Homo sapiens: one gene and its partner. The protein of the gene in region 1 purifies or fractionates together with the protein of each later gene. This does not show direct contact. Each region holds a gene or a part of one and is shown on either strand. Other genes may lie near its edges.

Evidence for each region.
Region 2: the proteins of ZNFX1 (region 1) and AMZ2 purify together in Homo sapiens (affinity purification with mass spectrometry; one large-scale study listed by BioGRID and IntAct). This does not show direct contact.

Annotation. Positions count from the first base shown.
Region 1 is NC_000020.11:49,260,656-49,264,975, forward strand, and holds part of ZNFX1 (NFX1-type zinc finger-containing protein 1), read right to left. Parts: intron 4,210-4,320; coding exon 4,061-4,209; intron 2,829-4,060; coding exon 2,679-2,828; intron 1-2,678.
Region 2 is NC_000017.11:68,253,939-68,257,655, forward strand, and holds the end of AMZ2 (archaemetzincin-2), read left to right. Parts: intron 1-465; coding exon 466-629; intron 630-1,761; coding exon 1,762-1,938; intron 1,939-2,875; coding exon 2,876-3,031; 3' UTR 3,032-3,217; downstream 3,218-3,717. UniProt on the Homo sapiens protein: Probable zinc metalloprotease.

The DNA of each region.
Region 1 (4,320 bases):
GCAGATTGGGGCATGGTAGCTCATGCCTGTAATCCCAGCAATTTGGAAGGCCAAGGCAGGAAGACTGCCTGAGCCCAGAAATTCAAGACCAGCCTGGGCAATACGGTGAGACCCTATGTCTTTAAAAAGAGAGAAAAAAAAAAGACTGGGCGTGGTGGCTTGCGCCTGTAATCCCAACACTTTGGGAGGCTGAGGCAGGCGGATCACCTGAGGTCACGAGTTTGAGACCAGCCTGGCCAACATGGTGAAACCCTGTCTTTATTAAAACTACAAAAATTAGCCAGGCATAGTGGTGCATGCCTGTAGTCCCAGCTACTCAGGAGGTTGAGGCAGAAGAACTGCTTGAACCCGGGAGGCAGAGGTTGCAGTGAGTGGAGATTGTGCCACTACACTCCGGCCTGGGTGACAAAAGCAAGATTCTGTCTCAAAAAAGCTGGGTGTGATGGCATGCACATATAATCCCAGTTACCCAGGAGGCTGAGGTGGGAGGACTGCTTGAGCCCAGGAGGCCGAGGCTGCAGTGAGCTATGATTATGCCACTGCCCTCCAGCCTGGGCTCAAGACCCTATCTCAAAAGAAAAAAGAATCAAAAGTAATTCCCTTAAAGTTTATAGGCTGTACTATTCACAACAGCAAAGACATCTAATCAACCTAAATGCGCATCAATGAAGGACTGGATAAAGAAAACGTGGTACATATATACCATGGAATACTATGCAGCCATAAAAAAGAATGAGATCATGTCCTTTGCGAGGACCTGAATGGAGTTTGAGGGCATTATCTTTAGCAAACTAACACAAGAACAGAAAACCAAATACTGCATGTTCTCACTTATAAGTTAAATGATGAGAACACATGGTCACATAGAGGGGATCAACACACTGGGGCCTATTGAAGGGTGGAGGATGGGAGGAGGGAGAGGAGCAGGAAAAATAACTGATGAGTACTAGGCTTAATATCTAGGTGATGTACAACAAACCGCCATGACACAAGTTTTTTTTTTTTTTTTTGAGACAGTCTTGCTCTGTCGCCCAGGCTGGAGTGCAGTGGCACGATCTCGGCTCACTGCAAGCTCTGCCTCCCAGGTTCACACCATTCTCCTGCCTCAGCCTCCTGAGTAGCTGGGACTACAGGCGCCCGCCACCATGCCCGGCTAATTTTTTTATTTTTTTAGTAGAGACGGGGTTTCAGCGTGTTAGCCAGGATGGTCTCAATCTCCTGACCTCGTGATCCGCCTGCCTCGGCCTCCCAAAGTGCTGGGATTACAGGCGTGAGCCACTGCGCGCTTGGCCTCATGACACAAGTTTACCTACGTAACAAACCTGCACACGTACCCCTGAACTTAAAAGTTAAAAAAAAAATTAAAAAAGAAACATCATATTGTTAAAAAAAAAAAAAGTTCAGAGGCTGTGAACTGGCATCTCCTTGGGCAACTGGAACATTTAACATGACTTGTATAGAATTTTAAAAATCAAAGGGCTGGGCACGGTGGCTCATGCCTATAATCCCAGCACTTTGGAGAGCCGAGGTGGGCGGGTCACCTGAGGTCAGGAGTTCAAGACCAGCCTGGCGAATGTGGTGAAACCCTGTCTCTACAAAAATTAGCCAGGCATGATGGCAGGTGCCTGTAATCCTAGCTACTCAAGAGGCCAAGGTAAGAGAATCGCTTGAACCCGGGAGGCGGAGGTTGTAGTAAGCCAAGATCGCGCCATTGCACTGCAGCCTGGGGTGAGAGAGTGAGAACTCTGTCTCAAAAAAAAAAAAAAGAAGAAAAAAAAAAAAGAATTAAAAAAATTTTCCAGCCTATTTTGACAAAATCAGGAGCTATGGCAGCAATGACTGTTTATTACTGAATGGCAACAAATGGCTGGAGCTGGGTTGCTACCACATCTGTTCTAGTTTGCCACAGTCCTCTCCGCTTCTTAATATTTCAAATCTAGATTGCTTCACTTATTTGTAAGACCTGAATGACCTCTGTAAGCTTTTGGTTTGTAATCCTGTAAATCAGCAACCTAATGGTAACAAAGCTACCATTTCACTGGGTTCCTAGCCTGCCACTTTACAGAGACTGTCTCAGTTATTTCTTACCATATCTTTTGAAGGTAGGCATTATTATTATCCATGTTTGATTGCTGAGGATCACATGAACCCAAGTCACACAGTCAGTCTGCATGACTATATCTATCAACTCCCAAGTTCTCTATCTGTGCTAGTTTGCCTCTGGTTATGATTTTCTTCATTTCATTTAACAAACACTTATAGTACAGTTACTAAATTAATAAGTTTACAAATATCACCTTGCTCATCTAAATAACAATCCTGTAAGAACAAAGATCTGTAAGAAATTGCCTTTTTTGCAAATCAATATTACAGATGTTGGCAATTTCATATGGTTCAACTTAATGCTTATTATTATCCCCATTTTATAAAAGGGGAAACAGCCACAGAAAATTAAGTAACTTGTCCAGAGCCAAGCTCAGACTAAAACCCAACAGGCTGGTTCGAGTTTTGTTCCTGACCAGCATATTCAGCTGCCTCTCATCACAAAAGGGAACTTTACACATTGTGGCAGCATCAGATTATCAAACAGGTAAAGTTTTGGACTGATGCTTCTCCTGGAGGCTACCTCAAAGTACTGAGGCCAGAGACATATTTGTGTCCCCCAGGATGACCCCTACCTGCACTGGTCCATTCATGAGACTTTCCCAGTGCTGGGGTGAGATGTACTTCTGCAGGTACTGTTCCCGTAGGACACCACGCATGGTGCACTCCAGGGTCTTGGCTCCTTCATGAAGCTCTTGCTCTGACTCCTTCATCTGTGTCATGATCTTCCAAGAACAGAGGGAAAGAAATGATGAGGAAATATCATCATCCCCCAAACTCAGTCCTCACCTTGAGGGAAAGCAAAGCTAAGACAGGAACAGTAAGGAGGGAGAATAAATAAATAGACTGGTCAACAAACCAATTTCCCAAGGCACATTATTGTGGTCTTGAAACCAAAGAACTAGTATCGGTTGAGTGTGGTGGCTCATGCCTGTAATACCAGCATTTTAGGAGGCCAAGGCAGGTGGATCACTTGAGGTCTGTAGTTCAAGACCAGCCTGGCCAACATGGCAAAACACTGTCTCTACTAAAAATGCAAAAATTAGCCAGGCGTGGTGGCAGGTTGAATATCCCTTATCCAAAATGCTTGGGACTAGAAGTGTTTCAGATTTTGGAATATTTGCGTTTATACTTACTGGTTGAGCATTGCAAATCTGGAAATCCAAAATGTGAAATAATGTTGGGCCGGGCGCGGTGGCTCACGCCTGTAATCCCAGCACTTTGGGAGGCCGAGGCGGGTGGACCATGAGGTCAAGAGATCGAGACCAGCCTGGCCAACATGGTGAAATCTTGTCTCTACTAAAAATACAAAAATTAGCCAGGTGTGATGGCGGGCGCCTGTAATCCCAGCTACTCAGGAGGCTGAGGCAAGAGAATCGCTTGAACCTAGGAGGTGGAGGTTGCAGTGAGCCGAGATTGTGCCACTGCACTCCAGCCTGGGTGACTGAGCAAGACCCTGTCTCAAAAAAAGAAATAATGTTGGCACTCAGAAAGTTTTGGATTTGGATTTTCCAATTTGAGATGCTCAACCTACACAACAGAAAAACAAACAGGCCAAGAATACTGTGGGAGAGACTTCAAGGCTCACAATATCTGTTCTCTCTCTTTTCCTTAGTAATAAGAACTCAGATTTTTGACTGGGCACATTGCTGCCCAGCTAAAAGATGACATTTCCCTGGTCAGTTGGCTGTACACAGAGGTGCTGTGGGTGGTATGGGGGAAGGAGCGTTAAGGTAGGGTGGGGATGGGCAGTGTTTCCTTGTCTTTTCTCCATCTTGGATTGTGAAGGCAAAGGTCATACCAAGGGATTGGCAGAATAGAATGCTGAAAGGAACCTGGGTCCTCCAGAGCTTTGAGGAGCCTCCAAATCTACCCTGGGCTGCCTACCCAGAAAGCCACTGCTATCTTGTTTAGGTCCCTCTTGAACTACCCCAGATATTTCAGAGCTGGGACTTACACTCATGTAGGCCCTTCGGAGGTGCATGGGGAGGTTGCGGCGGAATTCCCGCTTGTTCCTCAGCTCCCTTAGGGTGAACTGCTTCAGGATTTCACTGTTGCTCCTTCCACCCACCCGCACAATGCTGGTCTTCTGACAATTGTAGATGCCTGTGGAACAAAGTGGAGCATGGCAGGGTTGAGAGGAGCTTATGCTAGGTTCTCTCAGGTGAGAGCTGTGTGTATTTGGGATCTAGTCTGGTCCCTTAGAGAATAAACTTG
Region 2 (3,717 bases), on another chromosome or scaffold:
TTCACCATGTTAGCCAGGCTGGTCTTGAGCTTCTGACATCAGGTGATCCACCTGCCTCGGCCTCCCAAAGTCCTAGGATTACAATCGTGAGCCACCACGCCCAACCCATGTGGTTATTTTTTATGATTCCTTTTTGAGTACTTGATTTGGAGTACTTGCTACTTTCAGAAAAAGACTTCTTTTGTGGGAAAAGACTCTCTGAAACTTCAGTTTCTCAAGCATTTGACCTCAAGTCCATTAAGTTTTACAAGGCAAGGCAAAGTGGATAGCAGCAAAAGATTTTGATAGGGAAATCTGGGGCAAAAGTCTTCCTTTTTGGTGGCAAACCATAAGTGTATCAGATGGTGTGGACACAGTGACACAGAGATGCACTCACTGGCCAGATGGGCCAGCAGTCTCTTCTTTCTTTGGTCTTTCTTCAGGGACCTTACTCTCATTCTGTCACTGTTTGTCCTTTTTTTGTAGGTGTGGGGATATTCAGCTTTGCCAGGTATGGCAGTGATTTTTATAGCATGCACTATAAAGGCAAAGTGAAGAAGCTCAAGAAAACATCTTCAAGTGACTATTCAATTTTCGACAACTATTATATTCCAGAAATAACTAGTGTTTTACTACTTCGATCCTGTAAGGTAAGTTATTACAAAAATCTGACAGGACAGTTCTTTAAAAGAGATCTTAGTTCCGTAAACTGTATATTGTCAGTCCGTAAGGTAATATTATAAATGAGTTTGTATCATTTGTATAATTTTGGTGCATAGTGCTTGACTGAAATGATCAGTAAAACAATTTAAATGGATACCTTCATATTGAAATTTACAATATCAGTGCCAGTTTTTCTGTACTACTAGTTACAGCCTTGGCTGTACCCATGTGCTATTAGTGTAATTCTGAATTCTGGTATGAGTGGGTAACCTACTTTTTCAAGCTACTGTGGTCATTGGGCAAAGCTGCTTTCCCCAGGCCTTTGGAGAACCTCTGCTCTGGCCTCTCTGGGAGCCTGGGCCTTCCTGCCCTGGGCTCCAGGTTACCCTCGACTGTAGTTGTCCTGGCAGTTCCTGATATCCCCAACTCGGTTTTGTGGAAAGCCTATCTCCCCTTTCTCCATAGCCAGAGAGATGGGCTTTTCCTTCAGCTAGAGAAATTCTGCTTTTACCTGTACTATTTGTTGGGGTTTGACAGCTACACCTCTGAGAACTACATTCTCACAGTGTGTTTCATGGGCCCCCTGTGTCATTGCCACCTGATGTTCTCATTAGCATGCAGATCAAGCCCCCTTTCTCCCAGACCTACTGAAATCAGCATCTCTAGGGGAAGAGCCCCAGAATCAGAATTACAACAAGTACCCTAGTGTAGATCAAGGGTTCTCAGCCAGGGGTGATTTTGCCATCCAGGGAATATTAGCAACGTCTGGAGACATTTTTGATTTTCACAATCAGGGAGGGAGTTCTGTTGGCCTCTAGTGGGTAGAGCCAGGGATGCTGCAAAGCATCGCACAGTGCACAGGACAGCCTCCCACAACCTGGTATTATCGGTCCAACATGTCAGCGATGTTGAGGTTGAGGAAGTCTATAGCAAGAAAGGCAGTAAGACATTTGGGGAAATGAGGGATTATTAAGTCTTTGAAGGTCTGGACAGGGTGAAGTTTTGGTGGTAATGGTAAGGGAGTTGATTCCTATGTTTCTTGGAAAAGCAAGAAAAAGAAGAGACGTGTAGCCTAATGTGATGGTGGTCTTATAAAGCCTCAACATGATTGTCTTGCAGACTTTAACCCATGAGATCGGACACATATTTGGACTGCGACACTGCCAGTGGCTTGCATGCCTCATGCAAGGCTCCAACCACTTGGAAGAAGCTGACCGGCGCCCTCTAAACCTTTGCCCTATCTGTTTGCACAAGTTGCAGTGTGCTGTTGGCTTCAGCATTGTAGAAAGATACAAAGTAAGTTGGGGGGTGGACAGTCTAAAGAGGGGGAAGTGGTTATCTGAGTAGCAAACCCATGTTTCTATTATATCCTTCTCTGGAGTTATAATTTATCAGAGGAAATTAGTGTAAAGATAAGCAGGAAGCTGCGGTTTAAAAATGTGAAGAAATGCTCTTCTTAAAAACTTCAGCTTGCCTTTGAGTGATTTATGCTTACAGTTCAATGAGAAATAGTGGAAGAAGTTTCTTTGCTTCTCTTCCATTTAGGGCAAGAGAGCTTGACTTTGCAGAACAGAATAAATATTGATATGTGTGGCAGAGTTCATTTTTTAAACCCTATAAGTGTGTGGACAGGATTTACCTTTCCAAATATGGGACAGAGGTATGATGTTCATTAGGAGGAAAAAAATGATTTTCTTTAAAAAGGAAGAAGGAAAGTACCTAATCTCAGTATGTGTGTGTGTGTGCCCACACTTGCCCACAAACATCAATATACATTCATGTGTCTACTCATGGGTATGACTGCATTCAGGTGACTGCACAGAAATGTCTACACATGTGTTTTCACATACATATGTCTACCCATGCCTGTGTGGACACTTATATATGTATATACGTACATGTCAAAGTAATATAATGCCTTGTGGAATATTTAGCAAGTTGAGAAAAAATAACATCCTATTATGCTAGAAACAAAGTGTAAGAATGAGTGTATTTCTTTTTCATCTTTTTTCAGTGCGTACTTTTGACATCATTTGTAATTCTGTGTGTATTTGGTACGTGCCATTTCACTCAGTATATCATTAGCATTATTTCATATTCACACCATCATTATCAAATGCAGCGTCTTCATGGGGTAATATGTCACCCTATGATCTAGAAGCCAATGCTTCTCTCTTGCCTGATGGTATTTTGCTGTGGTTTGTTGAAGTGCGCATCTTTCATGTTTTTCCAGGCACTGGTGAGGTGGATTGATGATGAATCTTCTGACACACCTGGAGCAACTCCAGAACACAGTCACGAGGATAATGGGAATTTACCGAAACCCGTGGAAGCCTTTAAGGAATGGAAAGAGTGGATAATAAAATGCCTGGCTGTTCTCCAAAAATGAGGACCTTCAAATAGGAGTGATTGAAATAAATAACTACTTGCATGTTATGCTTTCATTTGGGTGGAATACTTCATTGGAATAAACTACTGATCTTGTGCTGTGTCAAAGTAACAGACTAGAACCTTCTTTCAAGTACCTGAATTGAAATGAAACTCATTTTGAATAATAAAAACTCTAGAAACTCTTTATCTTCTCATCTTACTGGCCTGGTCTGTGGCAGCAAGCACATTATTTCCATTCCCCAAATATGTTTAGGTCTCCCAAGAAAGCTGGGACTGGCGGTAACGAGCAAGTAAATAACTTGAAAAAGAACCGTTCAATGCCCCAAGGAACCAACCAACATAATTTCCAGGGGGTGATTTTGTTTTTAGAAGAGCCGCTCCCCTCTTTTAGGCCCAGCCAAGTCACATTTTTGGACGTCCGTGGGCTCTGATCACCACAGCCCTCCTTTTCCGAGAGCCTACCTTACTGTCTCAAGTGCATTACCTTGTTTTTTTCTCTTGCTGGTTGTCACCTTATCCCTGAAAGAATGAACAGCTTGTATCAGTTTTTAGCAGCTTAAAATATGACCTATCAGGAATATTTGCAAGTGAAAATAACAATGGTCCTTACACTACCACAACATTTGGTGGTGGGAGTTCCGCTGCAGGTCTCAGCTATAACATAGTCATTTATGAGGGATCTTA